Linked DNA regions of Homo sapiens. The protein of the gene in region 4 interacts with the protein of the main gene of each other region in a pairwise test. Each region holds a gene or a part of one and is shown on either strand. Other genes may lie near its edges.

Evidence for each region.
Region 1: the proteins of RDH10 (region 4) and RMDN2 interact in binary tests that used the Homo sapiens proteins (3 or more experiments, as listed by UniProt).
Region 2: the proteins of RDH10 (region 4) and GAD2 interact in binary tests that used the Homo sapiens proteins (3 or more experiments, as listed by UniProt).
Region 3: the proteins of RDH10 (region 4) and ACSF2 interact in binary tests that used the Homo sapiens proteins (3 or more experiments, as listed by UniProt).

Annotation. Positions count from the first base shown.
Region 1 is NC_000002.12:37,920,533-37,928,407, forward strand, and holds the start of RMDN2 (regulator of microtubule dynamics protein 2), read left to right. Parts: upstream 1-4,754; 5' UTR 4,755-4,893; intron 4,894-4,998; exon of another isoform or gene 4,999-5,174; intron 5,175-7,875.
Region 2 is NC_000010.11:26,268,511-26,275,839, forward strand, and holds part of GAD2 (glutamate decarboxylase 2), read left to right. Parts: intron 1-608; coding exon 609-663; intron 664-2,129; coding exon 2,130-2,246; intron 2,247-5,125; coding exon 5,126-5,190; intron 5,191-7,329. UniProt on the Homo sapiens protein: Catalyzes the production of GABA.
Region 3 is NC_000017.11:50,463,982-50,471,310, reverse strand, and holds part of ACSF2 (medium-chain acyl-CoA ligase ACSF2, mitochondrial isoform 2 precursor), read right to left. Parts: intron 7,094-7,329; coding exon 7,017-7,093; intron 6,816-7,016; exon of another isoform or gene 6,786-6,815; coding exon of another isoform or gene 6,712-6,785; exon of another isoform or gene 6,014-6,711; coding exon of another isoform or gene 5,872-6,013; intron 5,605-5,871; coding exon of another isoform or gene 5,441-5,604; intron 3,272-5,440; coding exon of another isoform or gene 2,498-3,271; exon of another isoform or gene 2,431-2,497; intron 284-2,430; coding exon 176-283; intron 1-175. Other genes in the region: CHAD (chondroadherin precursor), read left to right, coding at 2,498-3,271, 5,441-5,604, 5,872-6,013. UniProt on the Homo sapiens protein: Acyl-CoA synthases catalyze the initial reaction in fatty acid metabolism, by forming a thioester with CoA. Has some preference toward medium-chain substrates. Plays a role in adipocyte differentiation.
Region 4 is NC_000008.11:73,318,593-73,325,921, reverse strand, and holds the end of RDH10 (retinol dehydrogenase 10), read right to left. Parts: intron 6,827-7,329; coding exon 6,728-6,826; intron 4,991-6,727; coding exon 4,845-4,990; intron 4,183-4,844; exon of another isoform or gene 3,835-4,182; intron 3,244-3,834; coding exon 3,112-3,243; intron 3,010-3,111; coding exon 2,886-3,009; 3' UTR 641-2,885; downstream 1-640. UniProt on the Homo sapiens protein: Retinol dehydrogenase with a clear preference for NADP. Converts all-trans-retinol to all-trans-retinal. Has no detectable activity towards 11-cis-retinol, 9-cis-retinol and 13-cis-retinol.

The DNA.
Region 1 (7,875 bases), on a different chromosome or scaffold from region 4:
ACCCAAGTCCAAAATGAAATTTTTTTCCAATTATTATATGTAATTAAGCATATCCAGTTATTTTAACTTTTTGTACACGTGTTAACAACATTTTGTCTGATGATGATGAATATTCACCTTTATTTTTAATTAGCGCCAGTGAAACTGACCTTAGCTTGTGAAGTTGATGTATATACTGTCAACAGTGTCCCTGAACATCATCTCCCAGGATGAAGAAAGAATGCAGAGGGAGGGGCAAAACCACTCTTCCTCTGAATCTGTCAAGTTCCACTTTGGATTGTATCCAAGGCTGTGCTTTATTTACAAAGGCCATGGAAAATCAGTGGAGGAATGTGACTTAAAAAATCTTCCACAATTTTTAAAGAAACGTCATTCTTTTCTTGAATCATCACCGAAATACTGCGGAAAACCACTGAGCAAGGTTAGTACATGCCTTTTTGAAAATGACTTTTTTCATGGAACAAAAACTTAATGTTTCTAATGAAATAGAAAGTTTCTAATAAGAATTCTATATCTTAATTAGGTATGTATACTTTTAATAAATTGATTCAACATTGAACTGCTAAGTAGCATAACATAAATATCGTTGTTAATTTTTCTTTCATACATATCTTCCTAAAATACCATTTTTAATTTGTTCAGTATAGGAGTATTAGGCCAACCATTTTATTGGATTTAAGTGATTAATAATTTATTGCACTAATCACTTAGTCTATGGAAATATTTAATAAGCTTATCCTAATGCTTTTTTCAGATAAAACATTTTTACCTTAGAAAGTCCAAGTTAGTTTCTTTTCAGAAATTTTTTTTGTAATTTTCCTGTGTTCTAGAGACTGCCTAATTTTTTTAAAACTACATCAGACATAGTATTATATTCCTCTTTTCCCCAAATTCTATTCCTAGCCTAACCTGAATATCATAAACACAAAGTAATTTTATACTCTGTGGATTAGAGGTTGTGGTAAACTGCAGAAAACCCCCCATGGGGCAAATGATCAGATTTGAGAATTCAGTTTCTCCTCTAACAGAAGCAGTGAAAGCTGAACCCTAAATAACTGAAGTGGGGGATACAAATGATGTAATATCACATTAGAAGGGCTATGATGTTCTTGTAAATGGTGCTATGAAGAGTCCCTTCAAGTGTTCTATCAAAGGCAGGGTCTGGGGGTCCAAGATGGGCTGGGTTAAGAGAAAAGGCTCTCAGACAAAGTTAAGTTTGATATTTGTCTCTAAAACTGACTATGTGGCCTGGGACAAGTTTCTTCACCTCTTGAAGCCTTGGTTTCCTCACCTGTATGTTATTTACTTCATTAGATTGTTGGGAAAATGGAATAAGATAATTCATATAAAGAACGAAGCTTGAAAACTGTGTAGAAGACTCAATAAATGTTCCTGCTGTACCTGTTGCTGCTGCCCTTTGCTCCTCCTCGTTTACAAATGATTCGGGGAACTCAGAGCTTCGGTTACACCTGGGGGACTTCTTCCTCTGCCCCTGCTCTTTGCCTGTGCGCTTCTCCCTCTCTAAATCCCTCTCTCTCAATGGTTAGGGTGTTCTTAATTTAAAAGTTTTTCCCCAGCTATTTGCAGTAAAATATTTCCTTAACCCTTTCCTTAAAATACTTTCTTAAAACCAGCCTGGAAATGAAGGTTGATTCTGCTCTTTGAAGCGGGGGTTGGGGATTTCATAGTGGTACTAATTATACCTGCAGCTCAGCCTTCAGTTTACAAATTAAGAAATTCAGCTTGTAAGTTTGATAAGATTTGGAAATAACAACAAGGAACTAGAAAATGAATAGTTAACTATATAGCATATTGGTAACTGTTAAAGGGTTAAAACTAACTTTGTCATTCAATTGCTTCCTGGAAATAAAACCACTCAAATAAAACCTAAAAAAAAAAAAAAATTGACACTCCCATCTCACATTACTATAATGAAGGACTATACATTTCCTCATGCTTTTCCCTCAAATGTACATACTACTTTCAAATAGTTATCTAATATAGAGGGTGTGCACCATGCCAGGTTCCCAAGATACAAAGATAAATGCTACCATCCTTGAAGATGTTCACAGCCTCACAAACACACAGTCACTGGCAAGCAGTAATTATATAGTGTACACCAGAGAGGTTTGCTGTAAGCTAGCAGGGAGGCATTTTGTATTCATTGAAACTCCTGGTCCTTCCATAAGTTTTGATGGGGCATGGATGAATACTTCTTATGGGGAAGGAGAGAGTGTGTAGCTTCTCAAGGGAAAGAGGTTGAAGTGGTTGAATTGGTTTTGGACGGGTGGCAAGCAACAGGATATTCCAGGCACAAGGAACAGGATAAAAAGGATACAGCTTGTGGAGAGACGATCAGTAGCTTAGCTAGTGCTGAAGTGTAGAATGATGTCTGGTGGAAGTAGCGGAGAAAAGCTGGAAAAGTAGGTTGGGGCAAATCGTGAAGGGTCTGTACCCACTCCTCCCAAATGATTGTCATGCCGTACTGGTTTGATGAATAACAGCAACTCTGAGATTCTTAGTATGTTCTGGTTTTTCCTTCAGATATTCCTTTTAGACTGACATTCCTAGTAGTGGGGAGGGGAATCATTTCTGCTTTTTTATGTCACCCCTGCAACAGTACCTGGCAAAGATAGCGCCTGTCTTTGCTATTTAGTTACAGCTTTGCCAAGGTCAATGGTTGTCACTGTCCCTGAGTTTCTACCTTTCAGATAATTTTTACTCATCAAGGAATAGAAACAAATGTATTGGAAAGGAGCAAGTGTGACATAGTCTATGTCCTGAACCTGAAGATCAAGTCAGTATCAGCTGCCATCTTCCTCTTGGAATAGACTGGTAAGGCCTTGTTCACAGCCCATACGTCACATTTTTATTGAAAGCCTCTTCTGTGCAATGTGCTGGGGATGCAGCAGTGAACAACTCAGTGGGCTCCTGGAAAAGCTTAAATTTTGTTTTAAATACTGAAAAGCTCCTTTTAAGTATTAGCGAAGAGACAGTCATGTTTCTTTGGTATCTAAATCTTGTTAAAAGAGAAAATTGTTTTGCATGATCGGTTTATATCATATTGTATTCTAGTTAAATAAAGCTAGCATTATATTGCAAGATTGCTGCAAACCATAATAAATAGGAGTGAAGTGGGTTTGTAGAAGGTAATATTTTACTAGTTCCAAATCTGAGAGGTTAAAGATTAATCTGCTCTTTTTCCAAATACAACTTAGGTTTTTGCTCTTGTTTTTTGAGACAGAGTCTCATTCTGTCCCAGACTGGTGAGCAGTGGCCCGATCTCGGCTCACTGCAACTTCTGCCTCTGAGGTTTAAGCAATTCTCATGCCTTAACCTCCCGAGCAGCTGGGACTACAGAAGTGCGCCACCACACTCGGCTAATTTTTGTATTTTTAGTAGAGATGGTGTTTCATCATATTGGCCAGGCTGGTCACGAACTCCTGGCCTCAAGTGATCCGTCCGCCTCAGCCTCTCAAAGTGCTGGGCTTACAGTCGTGAGCCACTGCGCCCTGCTACAAATTACTTTTAATAAAATGACCATGGCCAGGCTTACTTATTCTTCAATGCGGCTTGCCTGAAGCTCAAAAAATCATCTTAAAGAGCCTATAGAATCCCTGAATCCCTATCCGTAAACAGTAGTATATGGATTGCAAAACAAGCCTTCTGGATTCTTCATGGCTTTATGGGTGTTGTCTGCTGTTGCTGTTTTGAGAAAGAGTGTACCCATTTTTAATTCTGCTCAATATATTGGTGGGAAGTTTAGAGATTAATGTTATGCAAACCTAAGCTTGAGGCAGTAATACTCAAGGTGCGGACAATACAGAAGCAGTGTATGTACTGTTTTGTTTTTGTTTTTGAGACGCTCTATCACCCAGGCTGGAGTGCGGTGGCGCGATCTCGCCTCACTGCAACCTCTGCCTCCGGGTTCAAACGATTCTCCTGCCTCATCCTCCCAAGTAGCTGGGATTACAGGCGTCCACCACCACGCCCGGCTAATTTTTTGTATTTTTAGTAGAGACAGGGGTTTCGCCACGTTGGCCATACTGGTCTCGAATTCCTGACCTCAGGTGATCCGCCTGCCTCAGCCTCCCAAAGTGCTGGGATTACAGGCGTGACCCACCGCGCCCGGCCCAGTTTTTAAGAGCGTATTTAGCAGAATTAGTTTCATTATACAAACCACAGAAAGCTGGGTAAAACCTTAAATGTCAGGCATCTGAAAAAACAGCGGCTTTCATCTAAAGGCAACTCGGAATGGCGGGGAGAAGGAAGAGGCTGTCAAAATTGCTCATTAAAAGAAAACGTGAGATAAAGCTATGAACACGGGGCTGCAGATATCAGTAATTAGTGCAAGGCGTCTGCCTTTAATTCAGTCGTGAGGAGTAAAGTGCAAGGTTGTGCCTAGAAAGGGCACAGAAAAAGGTTTAACTAGGGGAGAGGGAGTGGGTTTGAGAGCCGGAACGAAGCGAGCTGGCGGTGGGCGTGCGGAGTGGCAGCAACGCGAGAGGGAACGCGCTGGGGCTAGCGCGGAGGCCCAGAGCCCAGGCGGGGGAAAAGGTGCCGACCGGCTTCGAAGGGAGGCGACGGCCGAGACACACGGTCCGGCGCGAGCCAGGCGCCCCGCGACGTGCAATTTTATTTTGCAAAAGGTGCACCCAACGCCAGTCCCGGTAGAGTTGAACCCACCACGAGAGGGAGAGGGGGCGGGAGCGGGGGGCCGAGCGGCCGCGGGCTCCTCCCCCGGCGCCTCCGCTATCTGGGTCAGGACGCGACGGCCGCGGCGCGGGACCTTAGGACCCGCGGGCTCCAGGGCTACTGTCCGTCCGCCACTGCGCGCCAGCAGGTCCTGGTCTCCGCTCTCCAACAGCTGAAAGGCCGGCGCAGTGAACACAGGTGCGTGCGCAGTCTGGGAGGGGGCTGCTCAGCCGCTGGGGGCCGGACCGCGCCGGGGACTTGCGGAGGGAAGCGGAAATACTTGCGGTGGGGGCGACTGCACTTCCGGGTCGGTGTGTCCCTGGCGAAGCTTGAGCCTGCTAGCCAGCGGTGCTCTGCGTTCCCGGGGCTGGAGCAGCGGCCCATAGTGGCTTCCCGGGTTCATCCCTCGCTGACCCTGCGCCACGGAAGCCCTAGCCCCGGAGGTCGCTGGTATTTCCTCGCACGCGGACCCTTCTGGGGTGCGTGGGGAACAGGCAGTTTGCTGCCTCGGCCCGGCTGGTCCCTGCAAACCCCAAAGAATTTCAACAGAGACACTTGCTGGGCTCTCGCTCGGCTTTCAGCCTTGCGCAAACATTTTGTTTTTGTTTGTGTGGGGTTTTTTTTGCTCTCAGACTCCGTCTGTGCCTATTTCACACAAAAACGAAGGCCGGATTATCAGTGCTGCCAACATAGGGGAATGAGGCAAACACTTGGGAGCCCTAAATTTAAAATAAATTATAAAATACAAAAAAACCATGAAAACCTGATGAAATGAACAATAGAATTCACTTCGAAAGTACCAGGTTTTCCAGGACGCTGTAGGAAATCTGATCACTAGTTCAAGGTCTCAGTGCAATTCTCTTAGGAAACTTAAACCTCGGGCTTTTTTGTAATGTCTCTTTATCCTTGCAAAATTTGTCATACCTTCCCCGAGTTTATTAGAGTTATGCATTTTATATTTTTCTCCTCTAAGGGTCTGCTGATGAAGTTAATGAATATCTGTGCTAGATTTATGGTGAAAGCATTATAATTAATTTAGTAAAGCATAATTTCTACATCAAAAAATTAATTTTAAATAAAACTAGAACATGGAAATGAAATGTTTCTTCAGACATTTCTTCAGAAAACATTTCATATTCTATTTTCTTTAGAGTCAACATTTTGATGTCATTTTAGAATACTTGATTCTCATCTCAACCTTTAATATTACACAATAATACACATTAATTAAGTGCCATAATCTATATTAAAATGTCATTTTCCATTGTTATTTACTAGCACCTTACAAATTGAAACGTAACATAATACTTTGTATCTGATTATTAAAATATTAGAGTTTTAAAATCTGTTTGGTAAAGTTTTTAATTACTATATTTTTTTATACTACAAGTGTATACTATTAACATAATTAGAAGTATGAAAGCTAACAAGGCTGGAGGCAGTGGCCCATGCTGCTTATCCCAGCACTTTGAGAGGTGGAGGCAGGATTGCTTGGGCCCAGGAGTTCGGGACCAGCCTAGCAACATAGGGAGACTCACTCTCTACAAGTAATGTAAAAATTAGCCGGGCGTGGTTGCCCACGCTTGTGGTCCTAGCTACTAGGGAGGCTGAGGCAGGAGGATGACTTGAGCCCAAGTGGTCGAGGCTACAGTGAGCAGTGATTGTACCACTGCACTCCAGCCTAGGTGACAGAGCGAGACTCTAAAAAAAAAAAGCTATGTAAATGACTTCATACAACCTTTGAAATTATTCTGAAGGCAAGCAAGTACTCTGATGTATTTTGTACATTATTTTTAATGTGTCATTTTTCAAATTATCAGTGTTGAAGCACATTTGTTTTATGCTGTTATAAAACTCAAACATAGCTTGAACTGTTAGTCTTTAATTGTGTTTGTTTAAAACATCAGCTCCGTTGATTCTATTTTTTTCTAGTTAATTTTTGTGGTTCTGAAATAATATTTCAGCTTTGAGCATCTCTGTTCAGTCAGTACTCTCCTTCACCTCCTTGTTGATGCTTTCCAAATCTCCCACATGTTGTGGGTGCATCCAAGAGTTAGGAACAGGTTGTCAAAGGTGACAGTTTTCACTTCCCAGTTGGGTGATCACTGGGTAAGTGACTTGACACCTGTGTGCCTCAGTTCACTTATCTGCAAAATAATAATAGGACCTGCATGGAAGAGATGATTTGGAATTGGTGCAGTTCCTAAAGAAAGGGCCAAGCAAAATAAGACTTTCCCACCTGCTGAAACCTGGTCCTGTCTCAAGAATAAGTTCTCCTTCCTAGGTAGATTTTTACTTCTACTTATTTGCTTATTAAATGAAAATATTTTCAAACTAGGCTATATTTCTTAATGTAAAAGTCCAAGGTATGGGCAAAAGAAAGCAATCAGAATAGGAAGATTTCCTTTAATAGACCTCTATATCAGCGAATGGACATCCTGCCTGAATAATTTTATTGACAAAAATAAAGATGATTAAACTTGATGTGTGAATATTAGCTGGAATGCAGTTGTAATTAATGGGCATAGAGTGACTTATTTTTTTGCAATAAGCTTTCAAGATAATTTAGTTTTGTGATACAATTTTTTTGTAGAATACATTTACACATCTAGCAATAATTAGCTACAATTTCAGCTGAAGTTACAAATTGATTGGAATCTGTTGCTGGCATGTCTCCTGGATGAGCTGGGAGTGGGCAGATGGTTATAGTTCCCAGTTATACCAATTAGGTGAAAAAAAATTTTTTTAAGTTAATTCCAGGCAAATTTCTGTGAGGTAAAGCAGGCCAGATTAAGTACCAAGGCTTTCTCTGGAATCTTTGGTTTAAAAGAAGGAATTCTTAAATCTCTTGGATATAATATTCACTAACACCTGAGGTAATTTCTGGAAGATTATTTTAAAGTCAGTCCTTCTCTTTGACACTTAGGCCTGTAATGAAGTGTAGAACATCCAAACAGGATACTTTCTGTGTTCCAGGCATATACTCTAGTGAAATAGGAATCCAAAGACGTTCTTATTTTAAGCAGGCTTTTCAGAAATAGATTATGGCTGCTTGTTCTCTCAGACCCTCTTCCATAGGGCATTTGCGAGCCCAGAAATCCTAACCAGTAGACCACCAAGGAAGCATTTGAAACATTACATTTAGTTGGCCATTTGAAGTGTAAGAAACAATGCTTGGTA
Region 2 (7,329 bases), on a different chromosome or scaffold from region 4:
TTATTATAATATTAAGCAAAGCAGTATCTGTGTTTTTATTTTAGGAAAGAAGCATTTTTAGGGTTGAAAGGATGTTTGAAACTTGAGCCCATGAATTTTTGGCCTTCTTTACGCTTTTAGCACTTGGAATGTCATTAGGTAGCTATTTCACTTAGTATCTTCATCCAGATATTTCAGAATGGATTTTCTCTTCCTGCTGTTTCATTGGTATGTGAAATTGCAGGTCGGTTTATTCAAAGGTTTGGAATAAAAAGGTTTCTCTGAACTCTCCTTTCATTGCCAAACATTTTGCTCCAAATCAGGCTTGTTTTAACTGAATTAAGAGGATGACTTAATAAGAAGCTTCTGTGCACAGCAGAGGGTCATGGTAATCGTTCTATAGGGAACAACACAATACGGTCACAAGTCTGCAAAACGTGCCAGAAATGATAGTCATGCCTCATCCAGGCAAGTAAATGCATCCTTCCTGGAAGCAGTCAAGGAGTTGTTTTCTCCGAGTATTGTTATCAACAGTTTGGGGTTGGACTTTACCCTCCTGCGGCCACTTACGTTGTAAAGACGATGAAGCAAATTATTCAAAGCAAATCTATATTTCTTTTTCCTTCCAGAGGGAAAATGATTCCATCTGATCTTGAAAGAAGGATTCTTGAAGCCAAACAGAAAGTAAGTTTCTGCCGGGAGCTTTATCCAGCCCATATTTCTATTTCCATCCACCGGAGAACAAAATGTGTTTTGGTTTTATTTTAAAAAGAGGATCCAAGCCTCAATCTCCCAGGTTTAATGAGAACATAGAATTCTGCATCCAGTCACTATTTATTTCTCTGGGTTATAGGCTCTGCTTTAGAAAAGTTTAAATTGCTGAATAAATATTATATACAGAGATACAGTGAGCGTTTCCAAAGCATTTGTCTTCCTAGGTACTGAGGGTTGGCATGAAACACCCACACATTTGAAAGAATATTTTCAGAGGCGGGGAAATAGCAGAATGCTAATGCAGTATGTGAGAGACCCTGGTGCAGTTCTTCAAAAGGGGCCAGTTTTTCCCGTGTAGGTGCATGCTGTTAGCATTGGCTCTCCAGACGTCTTATTTTGCAGGAAGCAATTTAGAACTCTTTTCAGAAGTAACAAGTTCTGAATGCCTGCCCAAGATTCCCAAAGCTCTAGAAAGTCATTTACAACCTGGGATGGCTCACAAATCAGAGAATTTGTTTCTAGAATTCTTTGTTTACCATTTGGTAGATATAACCTACAGTTTCTGATTTAATAACATACACATGCATTTTATCATTAGGAACTCAGAAATAATGATTTACGTTCATATGCCCTTTTTCGTTTGGTTTTGTTTTACTAAGTGGCAGGCAGCAGGAGAAGGTTTCCCTCCTTGTGCAAGTACTAGAACTACTTCTAGTAACATCAACTAGAAGATTAAACCTTTGCTGCCACCTAAAGACTGACACCATAACATCACGTTCTATAGACAGGACAGAGTCCTTATGGAATGAGGGACTATGGCGATCCTGTTTGTGGCATTCTCCTGCCTTCTTCCAGCCCGTTACTTCAATCAGTTTTCATTTAGCCATGGCCAGAGAGACTGAGGACTAGTTAGACGGATAAAAGTCATGGCGTATTATTTTAGCCGCTCCGTGCTGAAACGTGAAATAAATTATCTGGGCATTTTCCAAATAGGAATAATGGGCTGGTCAGAGCTACTTCTCTTCATTCTCCTGCCTACTCACTCTAGGGGATTTATGAAGTTCAGAGGCCTCGTTGTGAATAAGGAACACTTGAAAGTGAGCAAAGGGGGTTAAAAGGGCCAGAAAGTCTACCGGGAATATATACATGTCTCGGGGACGTCCCTGACAGCCTCTGGGTTCACTACAGCCTCTTCTGAGAATCAGAATGTCTGTTCTTTTAAGACACAGTCAGGTCCAACAGCATAGCCTAGAGAACTCAGATTCCAGAGAGTGAACATCAATTTGTCCCAGACCCCGGGGTGTCAGTAACTCTGCTGCTGCTTCCTCAAATTCAGACGTGTCTGTTAGGGAGAGAATTTCCATTGCTTTGAATCAGCTTTTTAAAAGAACCCTTGACTCTGTTTTCCATGATTTGGGGCTTTCTCGTTCGCACAGGGGTTTGTTCCTTTCCTCGTGAGTGCCACAGCTGGAACCACCGTGTACGGAGCATTTGACCCCCTCTTAGCTGTCGCTGACATTTGCAAAAAGTATAAGATCTGGATGCATGTGGATGTAAGTATCCCTTAGGGACTGGCCACTAAAACGTCCTTGCACGTTTTTCATGTGGGACACACAAAGGAAATTTGTTTTCTCTTTTTTTAACTTGGTCAGCTTATTTTCAGAGTGGTGATATTAAAGCTTTTAAAGCTGGATGAAGCAAATTAGCACACAACTCACACAGTACACACCGTGCACCAGAAGCATCCCAAGGCTGATTATACCTTAATGTCCCCAACATGGTAATATTTGTATTTCTATGATCAGTACCCAAGCTGACCACTTTGTTCTCAATTCATCGAGCCATTGCATCCATGGAGGAATACAACCTACGCACACAGTCCTGCTGTTCCTCACTTACCAGAATGGTCAGAAGAGTAAAGAGGAGTTGCATTTATGTAGGAAACCCAGAGAATTAAAAACAAACAAAAGCAAAAAACTGAAGCTCAAGTTAGATATTCCTGTATTTAGAGAGGAAAATAGGCTTGACAACTTCCTGGGAAATAAGGACCACCAAAGTTCCAATTTCGTAGCTTGGTCAGCTAAGAAGATAGATTATATTTGAAACGTTTTGACTTCAGGCCTTGTCACACTAAAAAATAATGAAGGTGTTCCCTCCAGAACATTTTCCAATGAAAAAAAATGTGTTAAGTTTTAGAAGGACCGAAGGGATTTAAGTTTAGATTAGTATTACTCAAAGTGTGGTTTGACGATTAGCTACCACCTGCAAACTGTTAATGATCCATATGAGATAAAGAGTTTGTGCCAAACCATCATCAGTCACAAACCATCGCTAATCACAAACCATCACAAACTAAGCGCAATGCTTGGCTCAGCTGATAATTTTTTCATTGCAAGACTTTCTCAGTGAAGGAACGCATAAGTTGATGTTCATTCGAGTGCAAGATCCTTATGTTGTCATGGGCCAGCACTGGGTCTAAGCCAGGGCTATAACAATGATCTAGCCCTGGCTTAGATCATTTTGGCTTTATAATAATTATTCAGACCAAATTAATGCTCTTTTTTTTTTCTTTTTGAGACAGAGTCTTGCTCTGTCGCCCAGGCAGGAGTGCAGTGGCGTGATCTTAGCTCACCGCAACCTCCGCCTCCAGGGTTCAAGCAATTCTCCTGCCTCAGCTTCCTGAGTAGCTGGGATTACAGACGTGCGCACCCATGCCCAGCTAATTTTTGCAATTTTAGTAGAGATGGGATTTCTCCATATTGGCCAGGCTGCTCTCGAACTCCTGACCTCAGGTGATCCACCTGCCTTGGCCTCCCAAAATGCTGGGATTACAGGCAGGAGCCACCACACCTGGCCTCATTAATGTTCTTTTCTTTAGGGGCAGAAAATTTCCACAGGCTTAGCTGGGTGCATTTCCATTATTCCAGAGTATTCCTGCAGAGCAATCACCAATGTTCTTTATCCTCCCTGATTCACAGTGTGAGTCGTTCATTAGGCTACCAGAGCCCCTTTCATTTTACACATGAAGACACTGAGAAAAGACTGAACTATCCGATATCATTAGTGACCTGGGCCTCAGGACTGGAAATCCTGGTAGACCTTGCTGGCTGATTCAGGAAGAGGATTACCCGGCAACTTCAAAAATGAGAATGTCTGTGTGTCCTGAGCCAGCAGAAGCTATGGGTTGTTCCTCTGGGCCTCCTACTTAAATTAGAACTAGGGAATCTTTTAACCAGTTTTATTAGCTTTTCTTTGAAACATACCAAGTTTACCACTTACTCTTATTAGCTTTAACATTCATACATTCTATAAAGTAGAAAGAATCTTAAAATAGTACACGTTTGGAAAATCATAATTTTTCAAAGTGCAAAAGAACTGGGCCAGGTGCAGTGTCTCACGCCTGTAATCCCAGCACTTTGGGAGGCTGAGGCAGGTGGATTACCTGAAGTCAGAAGTTCGAGACCAGCCTGGCCAGCATGGTGAAACCTCGTCTCTACTAAAAATACAAAAATTAGCCAGGCATGGTGGTGGGTGCCTGTAATCCCAGCTACTTGGGAGGCTGAGGCAGGAGAATTGCTTGAACCCAGGAGGCAGAGGTTGCAGTGAGCCAAGATCTCACCATTGCACTCCAGCCTGGGCAACAAGAGCAAAACTCTGTCTCAGAAACAAAACAAAACAAAAAGAGGGCTGAACTTACAACAAAAGGTGGGGGGAAGTGATTATATCATAAAAGAATTTTATAATCCATTTAAAATTATCCTAGAATTATTTGTACACACAGAGGAAAGAAAGTTAATATTTCCAAATGAATCTCCATCTTGGCATTCTATTTTTAAAGGAGATTACTACACCAATTCAAATCTTCAACCTTGATCAAGTACAAATTGTTAAGACGTGTTCTAACTGCTCAGCTAATTAACTGGTATGAATCTTCCCTGCTTGTGAATTTTGGACACAGAAATTATCCAAAATCACACATCAGTGAAATAGAGTTATGAAGCCACTTCTTATTTCTGGAATCATTTAGACTTGTCAAAAGAGTTTTCCCTGCAACTTGGAAGCTGTTTAATGGCCCTCCTGCCCATCTTCTCTGCCTTACACTGTGGGGACCACAGGGTTTCGTATTCTGAGAACATGACTTCATGAGGACTAATGGTGCTGGTGATAGGTTTGGGAGAGGGTCTTTCTCTCTCTTCTACGGACCAGGAGCTATGCCTCCAAGGTGGCTCCTTACACCCATATAAATGTGGGATGGAATCTGAGACCTTAGAAGGGCCCTTCGGTGTAAACTCTGAAGGTTAGTGCCAGAAGGAGGTGGTCAACTTCCTAAGTGGCCTGGGGTCAAGATCATTTTCACCTAGAAAGACACCAGACTATAGAAATCTAGGCAATGACAAACTGCTACCATTTTCCTCATATGATTTTTTTTCAGGCAGCTTGGGGTGGGGGATTACTGATGTCCCGAAAACACAAGTGGAAACTGAGTGGCGTGGAGAGGTATGTTGCATTTTTCTTATTAACAACATAAAGTGTTAAAAGCTAACTGTGAAACACAAATTACAGTCAATTTCCAGGAACTTTTGGAATACTGAGTGAACTCACTCTATTCAGTGCTTGTGTTCCTTGCCTTATGTGGTATTACACTCATGAATGTGGGTAAACAACAGAAAAATCAAATATGTAAATATTATGTGTAAACAACAGAAAAATCAGAATACACATCAAGCGACCCAGGTAGAATCTCTTTCAGACATAGAGATTCCTGTCTAGGGTCTATTCCTGGGATCTCTGAACCAACCACAAAAATTGTTTAAAACCTACAGGCAGCCCACGTTTTACTAGGGAGAAGATTTATAGCTTTCATGTTTCATAAAAGGATAATATCCACTGCTTAAAAAAAATAATAATTTTTCAAAGCAAATAAGCACCTTGTAACTTATCAATGTTGAAAGTTTGGGTTTGGGGTCTAAGATGGCCAGTTCACTTAAAGTGAAACATACTAGCAATAGCCTCATCTCATGTTTCATTCCCGTAATAACCTTTCTCTGACACAGCTCCGACTGATGCTGCAAAGCACCTTTTATTTAGAGCCTACGCAGAAGACTGTTGAGAAAAGCTGAAAAACACAAAGGCAGTGATATCTGATTGGCATAAAGCACATTCAGGTCCAAAGAAAAGAGAACAACAGAATGCAAAATACAGGCTCTGGTTCTGAACCACATGCAAGGGGAGCCCAGTTCTCTCATCACAACATGGCAGGTCAGACACAGTGGTGAGCTCTGGCACTCCAAGTGACCAAGAAAGCCTGAATTCATCAGAGGCTGCCAAATGCCCACCATCCCCTGCCAAGTCGCCAGATGCTGCCCAGCAAAAGCGTCACACTGGCTCTGCCACTAGATATCTTGGCACAGTTTCTGTTCCAGGACAAGGAGAGACGCTGATGGAGCACAGAGGCACTTGTGAGCCCTGGGCATGTGGGAGGCCCAGGCCAGAGTGGCTGTGCAGAGGGTGCGATCTGACACCCAGGCCCAAAATACACAGAGAACCCGTGAGTGTGGAAAGAGAGGGGTATGGTTACTGGGCTGGAGTCAAGAGCATCCCACCAAATTAATGGAAAGAAGGCAAAAAAGAGTTGGGATACACCAGCTAAGGCCCATGTCAGAAGGGTCACTGTCCCTGAGTCTGATGGCTGGGGTCAGAGCCTGGCCTGAGCACAGCGGTGTTAAGGCACCTGGAGCCACCCAAGCTCTGATTGCAGGGCCCCATTTAGATGCCAGTGGATGAGGGCAGGTGTGTCTCCCTCCCAGGGTCAGCCAGTGCCAGGCCTCTGCTCTTGGACCCTTGGGGCTTCTCTCAGGCCTAATCCCTTTCCATCTTGAAGATCTGCAAGAAAGCAGAAGCTTAAGGAAGAGGCAATGAAGTAAACAGGGAGAGACAATAAAAGAGAGAGAGAGAACAACTTGGAAGGTGCCTGCTCACATGATCAGAACAATAATTAAATTCATGTGCTTTCAAGAGAGGTGGCCTATGTACAGTACTTTCTCTTCTGTGAGTTTCTGACTGGCACAAAAAGTCTGTTACTTTACCTTTGATGCCACTTGCAACTGTAAGTGCTGAAAGTCCTGGCACATCCTCCACTTAAAAACTCACTAAATTACCTACCCTGAGCCTTAGAAAAATAAACACCCACACGATTCTGTACCAAAGACTATTATTTGAGAGCAAAGCTTAGAACGTTCATCAGGGAACACAGAGTTTCCTCTTATTGCCGCAATTCTTGAAACTGTACTGTAACTAAACTTTTCAAATGGAATAACCATATATGAAGTCCTAAAAATGAGGGGGCTGCTGGTGTTCCACTCTGAGCAGAATCCCCTTTAGCCACCCATTTAACTGAGGATACCCCTCTCTCACTGACTTATTAGCAAAAGGCATACTTTCTAAGTGAATACAGTTGGAAGACCAGTGGAAACCACATAATGTGTATGGCCACAAGTTTAGGAAAGAAATGTGTCTCACTTAGGGAATGACATTTTTCCAAGCTCCGCAAACCAAAGTTTAGAACTCACCCTAAAAGTAGAAGAAATCCGTAGTCAATTCTTGTCCCCAAATCCAGAGGATCCTTAGTAGTCACAG
Region 3 (7,329 bases), on a different chromosome or scaffold from region 4:
CTTAGCCCACAGAGAACACTCCGGGCCAGGCCTAGCACACCCCTGCTGCTGGGGGGCTCTAGGCATCCTGAGTGAGCCATTTGACTCTCTCACTGAAAGCAACCGATGTCCCAGCTGGGTGCACCCCAGCTGGGTGACGGGAGGTGGGACTTTGGAGTCTTGGTCAGGGGCTCACCTCCGTGTGAGGCATAATTCTGCCCACGCTTTCTGCCTTCTGCTCCACAGTGTCCTCAGGGAAGTGCGCGAATGTCACGGGACTGTTCTCTGTGGTTCCATAAGCAACCTAGAGGGTCCAGAAAGGGTGTTTGAAGAGGGCTCAGCACGTGCAGAGGGATCAGGTGAGCTATCTGAGGAAATGGGAAGGAATTCATAAAAGAAAAGGGAAAGTGGAGGGCAGCCGAATGGTGGAAACAGAGACATCATTGGTAGGGGCCTGGGGTCAGGAGGCAGAGGTGCTGGGAGTGAGCAGACTAGATCTCTGCAGGGCCCCAGATCTGAAAGAAAATTGAGAGCAGGGACACCATTCTCTTCCAGCTGGAGCTCTCTCAGTGCCCCGTTTCCCTGGAGCAGCCACCTGTCTGTGCCTGTGGCTCCGGTATTACCAACACCCCACACTTCTCCCCCCATCCCCTGGCTGCCTTAACCCCACCTTCCTGATTTCAGGCCACATCCCCGGCTCCTCCCTTCCAAGCTGAAGGCCCCATAAACTTGATGAGAAAGCCAGCCTGCCTTGGCCCAGCTAGGAGTGGCACAGACACAACCCCACCCCCGCATTCTGCAAACCCTGAACAAGTGCCTGGCCTTGGGGCAGGCGTCCCCCAAGCTCTGGAGAGTTTCCCGTGAATTTATTTCCATCAAAATAAAAAAACAACCTAAGCAGTGATTTTAAAAACCAGTGGTACCCCCACCCCACCTCCCCCATTTCCAGTGGTTGGAAAGCCTGAGCAACAGAAAAACCAGAAGCCAGCCTTGGAGAAGCCTAAATACCATCAAGGAATGGTCTAGGCCAAGTATGACCCTCCTATCCTAGAGGCAAGGGGCAGAGAGGTTTGGGAAAAGGGCAGGCCCTGGAAACCAGGCCCCAACACGAGGGTACTGGGTAAGGGAAGAGAGGCTAGTTACCCCGTATCCTAGGTCCCCTTTAATCAACGGATACCAGATCTCATCCATCCTCCTCCCTGCACCAAGCTTCCCCCATATCAGCTGCTCTGGCTCTGGCACGGCTGGGGTTTGGTTCAATGTGGGTTCTGGTTTCTCCTTCCACCCCTCATCACAGACAATATCCTGTGCCAGGCAGCTTGGAGCTCACCCTGAGGCCAGAGCTGTGACCCTGCCTGCTCACCCTCCCCTTTCCACAGGAATCCGGACATCGTGGCTGGCAAGTGGGCACACAGAAATCTGGCGGGCTGGGGCGGGACTGCCCACAGAACTTAGGGTCTGGCAGCCAGAGCCGTCCAGGGCTGGTCCCTCGACCTGCCCCACCCCCTCCCGCACCCCTCCTCACAGTCCTGGGGCCACCGCCCGAATGTGGCATCTGCCAAGTACACCTCGGCGCCACTCAGCCGCCACCCTGAGACCCCTCAGGGGCGGGTCCTGACCACTAGGGTTGGGGATGAGGGATGGAGATATTTCGGGGCGATGAAGGAGGGGGGATGGTGCGACTGTGCTTGTGGCCTGTGGTTTCCAGGTGTGTTTGCCATTCCTGTGGGCCACTCTCCCCCACTTCCCACTTCTCTGCTTAGCCTTCAGCGGTGGAAAAAGGGGATGAGGGCGCCGGCGACAGAAACGCAAGCGGGGTTGGAAGAGAGGGGTGGGGGCGCGCCCGAGGGTGGGGAAGGAGCTCGGGTCTACCCAGGGCCAGCTTCGGCGCGTCGAGTCTGAAGTGGGAGACCGACGCCGGGGCGGCTCTCACGCTCGGCAGGCGCCGCACAAGCGCCCCTTTAAAGCGCAGGCAGCTGGCCCACCGCAGGGAGACGCATCCAGCTGTCCGGCCCCGCTTCCTCCCGCCTCGCATCCAGGGCACCCGGCCGAGCGTGTGTGGATGGCGCGGCGTGGAGGCTCAAACCTGAGCAAACAAATAAGTTGAGGGAACGCCTCCCTCTCTCCGATGTAAACTCGGGGCTCCAGACATAACTATTCCCCCTTCCCAGAAAAGCCCCGGGAAAGGCGGTAGGCAGAGGAGCACCATAGGAGAGCGGGGGGCTACAGCCGGGGCTCAGGGCTCGGGGCTCGGGGGCCACGGTCCCACCCCCTCATGCACGGTAGCCGGCTGGGGGAACGGCCCCGCCCCCTTCCCCGTGGAGGGCGGGGGCGCATCTCTGGGCGCGAGCGAGTTAAGCCCAGTGGCCTCGATGCTCCACGTAGGAGCTGGCTCGGCTGCCGGCTGCGGTCAGGGCCACCGTATAAAGAGGGCGGCAGACCCGAGCGCCTAGGACTCGCCGCTGCCCGCGCCCCGCCGCCGCTGCTGCCCCCAGCCCCGGCCCCAGGCGTCCCAGCCATGGTCCGCCCAATGCTCTTGCTCAGCCTCGGCCTCCTGGCTGGTCTGCTGCCGGCGCTGGCCGCCTGCCCCCAGAACTGCCACTGCCACAGCGACCTGCAGCACGTCATCTGCGACAAGGTGGGGCTGCAGAAGATCCCCAAGGTGTCAGAGAAGACCAAGCTGCTCAACCTACAGCGCAACAACTTCCCGGTGCTGGCTGCCAATTCGTTCCGGGCCATGCCGAACCTCGTGTCATTGCACCTGCAGCACTGCCAGATCCGCGAGGTGGCCGCCGGTGCCTTCCGCGGCCTCAAGCAACTTATCTACTTGTACCTGTCCCATAACGACATCCGCGTGCTGCGCGCAGGTGCCTTCGACGACCTGACCGAGCTGACCTACCTCTACCTGGACCACAACAAGGTCACTGAGCTGCCCCGGGGGTTGCTCTCCCCGCTGGTCAACCTCTTCATCTTGCAGCTCAACAACAACAAGATCCGTGAGCTGCGCGCAGGCGCCTTCCAGGGAGCCAAGGACCTGCGCTGGCTCTACCTGTCGGAAAACGCGTTGAGCTCCCTGCAGCCCGGGGCCCTGGACGACGTGGAGAACCTCGCCAAATTCCACGTGGACAGGAACCAGCTGTCCAGCTACCCCTCAGCTGCCCTGAGCAAGCTACGGGTGGTGGAGGAGCTGAAGCTGTCCCACAACCCCCTGAAAAGCATCCCGGACAATGCCTTCCAGTCCTTTGGCAGATACCTGGAGACCCTCTGGCTGGACAACACCAACCTGGAGAAGGTGAGCTCCTGGCTGTGGGCTCTGCCCTGGTTCCTTCTTCCCTTCCTGGAGGCCCCAGGAGCCAGGGCCACAGCTGGCACCATCCCCCGTCCCCAGGTTCCCTGTCCCTCTGGCTATCTCCAAGGTGAGCAGCTCTGCCACCTCCCTTCCTCGCCTTGTCACATCCCTACCCTAATCCCTGTCTGCTGCCAGTCTCGACCACTGCCCTCCTAGGATTCTTACATATAAAAGGAGTGGGACTGCCCTGGCCCCACAAAAGGCCCCCTAGGGCCATCTCCAGTGCTTCCAAACCCCCAACTGTGAGCAGCAGCCACCTCTTCCTGTTGGGCCTTCCACCCCTCCTCTGCTGTTTTTCCCGTCTCCAGTAAACCTACCACCCCATAAAGGAAGGTTTGTTTATTGAGGAGCCTTCCAGAGGAGCTGGGCAGATCAGGCCCACAAAGAGACCCTGTTCCTGGTGGGGGCTGTGCATGTGTGCTAAGGGGGAGTGGGGGACTGGGGAGTGAGGGGAAGCAAATGCCTGAGGAAGACATTCTCCATGCCCCATAGAGGCCCTGGTGGATGGCCCTGCCCAATCCACACAGACACAATTCACTGCATTCTCAAGTCCATTGCAGCTCAGTAGGCGTGGGACCAAGGGCTCCCCCAGGATGCAAGCATCGTGCCCATGGGCTCCGTGAAGGGGCAAAGGCAAGACCACTATTGTCAATCCTTGGCCCAAGACCCCAGGTGTCTCTCCACAGAGAAGACTGGCGTGACTCACTGTCTCCAGACTGCTAACTGCCCTTTGCCCTCCTCCGTCACTAGACCCATCTCCTGTCTGCATCCTCACTCATTCCTTTCTCCCCTGGGGTGCCCAGTGTCTGGCCAGGTGGGGCTACCTTGGATCAGAGCAGAATCCCTTCTCTGGGACTGGAAAAATCACCCTGGTACAGGGGCTTCAGCCAGGAGGTTTGGGTGGGGAACCAACAAGGTAGAGGAGAGTCTGGTTACTGGAGACCTTCATACCTCAATGTGGGCCACAGGAAAGGGTGCGGGTGTGGAGATGTGGGCAGAATCTCACTTGGGCAGCAGCCAACCTTTGTCTGGGTGGAAGGAGCCTGCTCAAGCCTGCCCTTCTTCAGCCCTGCCTCTCCCCAGCTGAAGTTGGAGTCCCCTGTGGCCCACCAGTGCCAGAGTGGTCTTTCAGTGGGCAGCAGAGCAGCGAATTAGGGGCTGGTTTGGGGCAGGGGAGGCCAGACAGGAATTGTGGCGCCTGGGCAAAGGTGTGGGCACCAATAGAACATTTCCTCTGGAGCCGTCCAACCTGGCCAAAGGCTCCACCAAGGTGGCTTCACAAATAGCGTCTGGCTGGCAGTGGGGGAGCAGTGAGGACAGAGCTGAGGGAAGTCCTGGGACCCTGGGACTGTGGGGAGCCTGGGCCCACTGCCCACTCCACCAAGCACAGACCAAGTTCACCGTGTACCAGTTTGGATTGCTGGGGCCAAACTCTGGCAGCCCCACAGTCCCAGTGTTTGTGCAGGGATTGTGGTGCCAGGGGAAGAGGAGCTGGGTGTGGTCCTGTGGCTACTGTTTACCCACTGCTGTGACCCAGGGCAAAGGACTGCGCTTTTTCCGTTTCCCCATTTGCATATTGAAAATAACACCACCTGGCTGGGCGTGGTGGCTCACGCCTGTAATCCCAGCACTTTGGGAGGCTGAGGCGGGTAGATCACGAGGTCAGGAGATCGAGACCATCCTGGCTAACATGGTGAAACTGCGTCTCTACTAAAAAAATACAAAAAAATTAGCCGGGCATGGTGGCGGGCACTTGTAGTCCCAGCTACTCAGGAGGCTGAGGCCGGAGAATGGCGTGAACCCGGGAGGCGGAGCTTGCAGTGAGCTGAGATCGTGCCACTGTGCTCCAGCCTGGGCAACACAGTGAGACTCCATCTCAAAAAAAAAAAAAGGAAAAAAAAAAAAAAAAGAAAATAACACCATCTGTCTCAAAGGGGGTTGTGTAGATTGGATTATCTGAGATCACTTGGTCATACTGCTTTGAAAACTGGGAAACTCCTCAAAGTGCTATGGCTCAGGTTCAGGGAAGGATCCTGCCCCTCTGGCACTCGGGTGCTTACTCATTCACTCATGACCACCTTGCTCCCACCTTGCTCCCACCTTGCTCCCCAGTTCTCAGATGGTGCCTTCCTGGGTGTAACCACGCTGAAACACGTCCATTTGGAGAACAACCGCTTGAACCAGCTACCCTCCAACTTCCCCTTCGACAGCCTGGAGACCCTCGCCCTTACCAATAACCCCTGGAAGTGTACCTGCCAGCTCCGGGGCCTTCGGCGGTAAGAACACTTCCATGTCACTCCCAGAGCCCACCCTCATGTGATAGAGGCACATTAGCCCTGCACTAAGACATGTTGGACATGCATCCTAGATCTGCTACCTAATAAGCATGGGACCCTGGGAGCCTCAGTTTCCCCATTTGTAAAATGAAGATGACAGCTTCAGACTATCCTGTGGCCAAGTCAATCCTGGCCCCATAGTTCACTGCCCTTCCCCCCAGCACTCCCACCTTCTTCCCCAGCCCCAGCAAGTTTCTGTCTCTCCAGGTGGCTGGAAGCCAAGGCCTCCCGCCCAGATGCCACCTGTGCCTCACCTGCCAAGTTCAAGGGCCAGCACATCCGTGACACGGACGCCTTCCGCAGCTGCAAGTTCCCCACCAAGAGGTCCAAGAAAGCTGGCCGCCATTAAACAGGTGGGGGCCAGGTAAACAGGTCCCCTATGTCCCTCTTTGGTGATTCCAGCAAGTGAGCTGGTATCTTCCAGGATACCCCCTGGCCCTGGAGGGTCAGGCAGACCCTCCATTTTTACAGAGAGAGGAGGGGACGACTGGGTCCCCTGTTGAAGGGAGGAAAAGGTCCTGCCCAGGACTTCCACCATTTTCTTCAAGCATCATCTGTGTTGTTGGAGTACTGACATCGATCTTTGCCTCTTTGCAGGTTCTGACCCAGCCAGTCCTGGTGACTGGCCTCTGCCTTCCACCGGAGAGACTACTGACCTTCTCACCTCCACCCATACCTTCTCCCCACAGCCTCTGCTGATGCACAGAGCTGCCTACACCTAGACACGTCCTGGCAGGGGGCCTCGGGCACTCCACTACCAACCCAGCTCCACCCAGCAGTGTCCTGGGGAGAAGGAAGGCTGAGCCTCTCCCCAGCCTTCATGCCTTCCCCACCCTCCAGCTCCTCTTGGAGAAGCTGTTGCTGAGACCCCCCCCCCAAGTCAATCAGAACCACAACAGGTTGGTCATCAGGATGGCCACCCTCCCAGGATCATCCTTCCTCTGTTCCTCTTTCCCTGCCACGTGGAAACAATCATCAGATCCTTGCCCCACCCCTTGCTTCCAGAAAGGGTTTTAAAGCCCATGCCCCAACTCTGCCAGCCCCCACCTGCCAGGACGTTCTAGCAGGACATCGGTGCTTTGCTGTCCATCTTCCCATGCTGCAATTTCTTCCTGAGATTTCTATAAATATAAATGTATGTATGTATTATATTTACTCCCCTGCCACCTATCTCCTTCACCCACCAGGTGCTGATGAGGTCAGACTATCTTTTCTCACATCTGCTTTCTGGAAGGAGGGCTGGCTGAGAGGGTCTCCTTTGAACATCTGGCCTGGACTCATCCCCATGTCTGTCCATCTGCTGTCATCCCAGGCCTGGCCTGCCCACAGCCCGGGCCGCAGTCACCACTCACCACCAGGTCCTTCATATTTATCTTGTTGATGATGGCTCGGATCAACTCTGGAGGTGCAGGGGACCCAGCAATGACACCTGAATCAGAGAGAGGGCTGACACAGCTCCCCAATTCTCCAGGCCCAGTGGAGTCCTTTCACCTACAGCTCATTCAGGGGAGGAACATTCCCTTTTCTCCTCTGACCCCGAGCCTTTCCTACACCTGGCAGCTGGCCCTGGGCTGGTGTCCAGGGACACTGGGGATCTCCCTCCCTCCCACCCACATTTTTACAGCGTCCTTCTTGCCCCCTATATAAAAGACTGGGAGCATAGCT
Region 4 (7,329 bases):
CAGGCTAATCTAATCTTTTGTGACAGAGCAGCAGACCTGGTAGATCAAGGGGGAAAACAATAGTTGGAATTTATGTTTGTTGGCTTCAAAACTTTTGATTCCTGGGTCCCACTCAATATAATTATCATTAAATTGGTTGAAAGGTTAGAGAAAGGGAGAGTGCCAGTATGAGCTGGGGGTGGTGCTCACAGACAGAGGTGGTGCTCCTTAGGGGATCAGCCTTGAGTGCAGTGGCCCTGAACATTCACATGAATGGGCCAGATGACAAAAAAGAGAACATATTCAAAGTCAGCATTCATGTTAAGGGGTGGGGGCAGGTGTAGATAAATAACCAGCCAGAAAAGCAACCTTGGCAATTACATAAGTGATCAACACAAACAGGCAGACTTGTCTAGAAGAGATTTCATGTTTAGAAACAATAATGCACACAATCAGCAATGTAGCATTAATAAGAACGTGACATTGGGATGAAGAAATGCAACTTGTAGGAATTCCATAGTTCTAAACCTGCATTAACTGTATCCCTTTCCAAACTCCACAGCTAAAGATGGGAGGGAGAATATGGACAACATTCAAGGAAGAGCCACAGAAGTGATTGAACTGGGCTGGGACATGGGAATGAAAGACTTCTACAAAAAAGTTAAATGAATTAGTTTATTGAACTTGGAGATGGACACCCTTATAAGGGCAATAACAAACAAAAATAGAAATAGGTTTAAGTTATAACACACAAGAATAAAATTAGATGTAAAGACGACTTTCCTCAGTTTTAAGGTGGATAAGTGGGTTGTTAAATTATAACAGATTTCTCTAGGAGGGTCTGGTGTACTCCAGGCTCGCTGGGAGGCAGACCTGGATAATCTCTGAGTATATCTGTCCCCACCTGGCATTGTTGAGACCCTTCAGAGTACTTCTTTAGGTCCATGATTGAAAATTAAGAGGCAGCCAGTGCCTCCATTGTTATAAGGGCCATAAGGTTTGGTTATCTTTGATAAAGAGAAATGGAAACATATAACAGAGCTCTTCCTCAAGTCCTGCATTGGGAACATTAGCACACACCAGGACCTTTCCTATATGTAGACACAGTGCAGATTTGATCTGTGGTGCAGCCAAACTAAAACACAGGTCATGGCATTGTTTCCCCACTTTTGGTACAAACAAGCCCTTAATCAAGTCTCTAATCTAGGGACAGTAACATCGGCTATTTGAGTGCAGGCACCCTAGGTTGTTAATGTCTGTTTCCCAACACTATTCCATTCCAATATTTTTCTTTACCTAAAGTGGGATAATGATCATAAAAAAAAACACAATAATTTTCCTTACAACACTGCTGATAACTAATAATCACACAATTGCATGTAAGTTAATTCTTTAAATTTAATCAGTCATTTATAAAACTCCCCAATTAGTAAAAGTTGGCTTATTTTAACAGCCTTAAACATTGGCCACTATTTAAACAAGACATTCTAAAAAAAAAAGCAATCACATAATAGTTTATAGTCATTTACAAGTGGATGGTATACATTTAGATACAGAGGTAGAAGTTCACCTTTACAATGTTTCACTAATACACATATACCAAATTCAAGGCACAAAATAGTTTGCTTTACAAAAAAATACTGTAAAAATGTCATTTGCTGTTCTACAATGTGAATAAACCTTTCAAAAGAATCTTTACACCCTTCCATACATATGCCATAGAATAAGATTTCTTCCTCTCACTAATCATAGTTGGCACAAAAATGGGGACTTTTCAATGTAGAAGTTCCCATTTTTAAAAACTGTTCCTTTGCAGAGCTGCTATGTATTCTAGATAAGAGTCCATCCAAAGAAATGAAACACAGCAACTTCCTGAGGAAAGGGCACTTTCTGTATGCAGCAAAATTCATAGGTAGAAAATGTATGATCTTTTAGGATAATTAGGTCTCCAGACACTTAATGAAGTATATCAGAGATAAAATTAAAAATTCAAGGCTGGGTGCAGTGGCTCATGCCTGTAATCCCAGCACTTTGGGAGGCCGAGGCAGGTGGATCACAATGTCAAGAGATGGAGACCATCCTGACCAACATGGTGAAACCCCGTCTCTACTAAAAATACAAAAATTAGCTGGGCGTGGTGGCGCATGCCTGTAGTCCCAGCTACTTGGGAGGCTGAGACAGCAGAATCACTTGAAACTGGGAGGCAGAGATTGCAGTGAGCCGTGATTGTGCTACTGCACTCCAGCCTGGTGACAGAGCGAGACTCCATCAAAAAAAAAAAAAAAAAAATTCAACTAATACTTTAGTCATTGTGACTTTAAGAAAGAGACTTGGTCACCTTTACTGTAACACTCAGACATCATTTACTTCAGTTGATGGAGATTTCAAAATTCCTTTTCAAAAGAGCTAAACATACAAACACCATGAAAAAGTCACCTAGGCCTTGCAAAACGGAAACTTAGAAAACGTGAGAAAATACAGCACTATCAGTCCTTGAAATTGCGAAGATGTCAACTGGCTAGAGTTTAATAACAAGAATGAGTAAACTCTGGGAATTCTGAAAAATCACACACATGAAACATACAGTCTAGTTATCATTTCTAGACTTCCTGCTCATTAAAAAATAATGGTAACCTGAAGATGTCACACTGCTTCTCTACAGATTTGACTGGTTTCTGGGTTCTGCCTAAAAGGACCCTGTTGGCAACAACCTAAGTTCACTTGTACTGATCACATTTTCCAAGTACTCTAGTCGGTTAATTTACACTTTATTTTTTTAAAAAGTTGATTTAAAAAAGAAACAACACAAGTTTAGAATCCATAAAATGTCAGCAATGCTGATGTGCACTGGACTGAAACATCTTGATCATCTTCTGATAGAAGTAATATTCCATACAAAAAGATTCTTAGATTCCATTTTTTGCTTCATTATTGTTTGTGGCTTGCTTTCTTTGAGCAATAAAGGGGTACATACACTTGTCCGCTCCTAGGAACCGATACATGCACACAACTGCTTCAAATGGTAGGATGCTGAAAAAGGGAAGTCACAGCTGTTAGCAAACTTGAAGTTTCAATTAAGACATCGGGCAGGCATGGAGAGACCCAGTCAGTGAGGGAACCCCTCCCAGTTACCTCTTCATGAAGGTCACGATGTACATGAGGCGGGGAGTGCAGATCATGGGCTGGTCAGTGAGGATGGCCTTCATGGCCTGCTTCACACAGTAATCAGGCTTCAGAGGTGGCAGAAAAGGCTCAATTTCTTTCCTGAAAGTTATTTATTCAAAAACAAAATGAAAAATTAACACAATAGAAAAGACTGGAAATACATATCAAAACATTAACAGTGATGTTATCTGAGTGATGGGATTTTGGGTACATTTTGTTTTCTTCATAGTGCTTTTCTGTATTTTCCAAATTTTCCTGCTATGAACACATTTTATTGGCACAGTCTGGAGAACAAGTTGGGAAAAAAAAGCAAAATTGGTCTGCTTTTCCATAAGATGAAAAAGTCATGTTTTTAAGATGCCTTAAAAGTATTTCAAATTATTTTCCTATGTTTTGCTTTCAATAGAAAGAGGAGAAGGTGTTTGGCATAGCAAACACTAATCTCAAGCAAGATGCCAAGCTTTTAGTATTAGTTGTAGTCAAAATGAGGGTGTAAGCTTTCAAAGTGAAAGGAAGGCCACAGGTATCCACTTTCCAGGATGCCGGAAGAGGGAAAGCTAAGGTATATTCTCTAGGGGCCCCTGAAATGAAGGGTATATAGACATCCTACCTTCAGTTTGATTCACTGGGTTACATGTTGAAATGATAGTGTGCAATTTATTCCTTTCATTCTTCATTTTGCCACCATAGCTTTGGACCCCTGCACCTGCTGCTATGCTACACTGGAGGAAACAGAGCTCCGCAAGACCCTCAGCAACTGCTTCCCAAGTACATAAGAGGAAAACAAAACAAAACAAACCACCAACACACACACATGTTCACACAGACACACACATGTGTGGGATAAGAGGCAGAGCTAGAGTCCATTTTCCAGGTCAGACTTGGGACTCCAAGCCTGACTTTGGAGTGATTCAAATCACCTTCCACCTATTTTGCTGCTTGTTCAGTTCAGTACACGTTAAGAATGGCCCCCAACCAACAGGGAACTGGTTTGGTTATCTTCCTTTGCCTTTCAAACTCACCCAAGCAAAGATAAAAGTAAGCATGTCTTCACAAGCATCCTCTTAATGATTCACAGTTTTGTTTATTCTGCTGAGCTCAAGTCAGATGTAACTTGACATTTATATTCCCATATACCTCCTTTCTATGTGTGTGGGTATTTTATTTCATTTTTCAGTATATCTAAATGGTTCTTCTCATTCTGCCAGAGTGAATCTAGTTACATACGCTTGCTGCAAAAAGGAAGTTTCCAAATCTGGAGTGTAATATTCAATGGTCTTTTCAGAAGAAAGGCACGTTACTCTCTGTGACAGTAACATTGCTTCATATCCAGACCCAAGTCACATGAAGGAATTTTCTTCTAGAATCCTTATTTACCAATACCAATTTTAAAGAAACAAAATAACTCCAAAAGATGAGCTTCTAAGGAAAAGACTGGATACTTATGTTTTCTCTTTACAGAGAAGCCATTTCCTATCTAATGATTCTGGATTAATTTCTGCAAATTAGTATCAGTGTGTAGCACCAGTCTCTCCTTTGCAAATCTTATACACCAATTTTACAAACTTTACAAATCTTGACCAATAAAAGCCACAGATTGTCAAATGATAGTTAAAATACAAGGTTATGTTTGAAAGTCCAGTTCCACATATTCTCCCAACATATTCTTTTTATCAGTAATAATATAGGTTCTCACTGACCTGATTCGGCAGCCTCTGAACATGCCAGTGTCTACAAGATAAGGGCAAACCAAGGTTGTTTTAATTCCATCCTTTTCAGCAGCCTTTAGTTCATGGCTCAGGGATTCATGAAAACCCACAACTCCAAATTTACTGGCACAGTAATCCTGAGTTAAAGAGGGGAGAAAGCAGAAATACTAAGCATATGCCCCTATCTCCAACCAAACTAAAGCTTCCCTGGTCCTATTACCATGTTTAGATGTCTAATACATAAGGTTACAGGTGACTACACAAAGAAAAGGAAATCATTTTAAAAGACAGATACCTGGCTGGGCATAGTGGCTCATGCCTGTAATCCTAGCACTTTGGGAGGCCGAGGTGGCTGGATCACTTAAGGTCAGGAGCTCGAGACCAGCCTGGCCAAAATGGTGAAACCCCGCCTCTACTAAAAATACAAAAATTAGCTGGGCATGGTGGGCCTGTGCCTGTAGTCCCAGCTACTCAGGAGGCTGAGGCAGGAGAATTGCTTGAACCTGGGAGGTGGAGGTTGCAGTGAGCCAAGATCACACCACTGCACTCCAGCCTGGGTGACAGAGTGAGACTCTGTCTCAAAAAAAAAAAAACAAAAACAAAAACAAAAACAAAAACAAAAAAAAAACACAAACCAGATACCTGATGTGGTTCAGTGCAGAAATAATATTTTCAAAGCAACAGCAGAAACAGATGAATACTTTTTGTCACATCAACTAAGTATCATATTACTTTGGGGAAGTTACCATAAAGGATTCTATGAAAGCTCACAAGCTGAAGTTAAAATGGAGAGAGGTTCACTTTGAAGTGTCTGGAAAATTTACAAATGGTCTCTTGTTCAGTAAAGGAGAAAGAAAAACCAGTTTGTTTAAATTAATGCAAGAAGAATAAAGGCAAATCTAGCTTAGGCTATAAATTGTTATGATTTGACTTTCTTTGTAAGGCGAAGTTAAAATGAAAATGATAATCATGCCTTGTAATCTTAAACTAGAACTTAACCTAAAGGCACAGAATATAGAAAAAAAGTTATTGTCCATGGCCCAACTTCAGAAATGGAATCCCTTGATATAGGTGCTATTTAAATAATGTGTCCTTTTGCATATTTGCATGGAGTGATGTTTTCAGTTTTACAGGCATGCAGAGGACAAACAGGATAGAACAACATATATACTCATACTTTATAATCTGAATATCGTGAAGAACAGGGTTTGATGAAATCCAGTTCTACAATTCTACAAACTTACAATGCAGGATACCTGACCGCCTCATCTGATGGGCTAATTAATACAAGATAGCTCAGTTTTGGCAAGGTGACCACAACCGAATGTGAACCTCTGGCCTCATTCTTCTGTTCCCCACAGCTTTCCATGGTTCCATTCTTGGCCCTGTGCCTCCTGCCATCGTCAAGTGAAGCTGCTAATGAAAATGGGCACACTGAGGGCTGGCCCATCTACTTTTCTTGTCGCTGCTGCTTTGTCAAACTAGTGTAAGAGATTTTATGGCAGAAGAGGCAGAAGTCCATTCCCTTTCTTTGTTTTGTTTTAGAGACAGGGTCTTGCTCTATCTCCCAGGCTGAAGTGCAGTGGTGCCACCATAGCTCACTGCAGTCTTGAACACCTGGGCTCGCACGATTCTCCCACCTCAGCCTCTCAAGTAGCTAGGACTACAGGTGTGCGCCACCACACCTGACATAGAATTCCATTCCAGTGGCTGGCCCTGGGTTCCTGTGGAACATTCTACATGCAGCACACATGCAGAGTGCCTTCGTGCAGCTTTCATGAATGGAGGGGCAGCAGGTGCTCTCCTGGAGGTTCTGGTGTACTTATCACAGGATAAACAGATTGAACGAAAGAAATGCTATATATCTGACAAACCTCAACTCCGGCAGTACTGAACAATCCCAAGGAACTTGCAACTGTCACAATATGACCATGATTAATCTCCAGCATCGTAGGAAGAAAAGCCTTAGTGGTCTGAAACAAAGTAAGATTCAAGTTTTAGAACTGATTTCATGAATTTCATCTAAAACCCAGTCCAGGATCACAAAACAAACTTTTATTCACATGATGTTTTGTTTCCCAATTCCTTTAAAAATATTTTATATTTATCAAAAAGATCTTTTAAGTGTCTGGCTAACTTAGCACTGTATCATCGGCATGGCAGGCCTATTATAAGTCGTGACCAACAAGACTGTAACTTAAAAGCTTTTGGGGACAGTGTCTAGAGATAAAAAGAGAGCCATTGGCAGAAGCTTCTTAATTACCTTTCAAGTGACAGTTATCTGCTAATTTAAAGTACTCCCAAGCCAGGTATTTGTTTCTGCTCGTGACACTTCAATGCAGCTATCTCATGGTTTAGGAGGGACCACAGCCTACTACAAACATTGCCTTGTATTAATGTGTGCCTTACGGCGATGTCTACGTAGTAATAGACCTATCAATGAAGAGATACTCCAGCAGCATGCTCTGGGATCCCA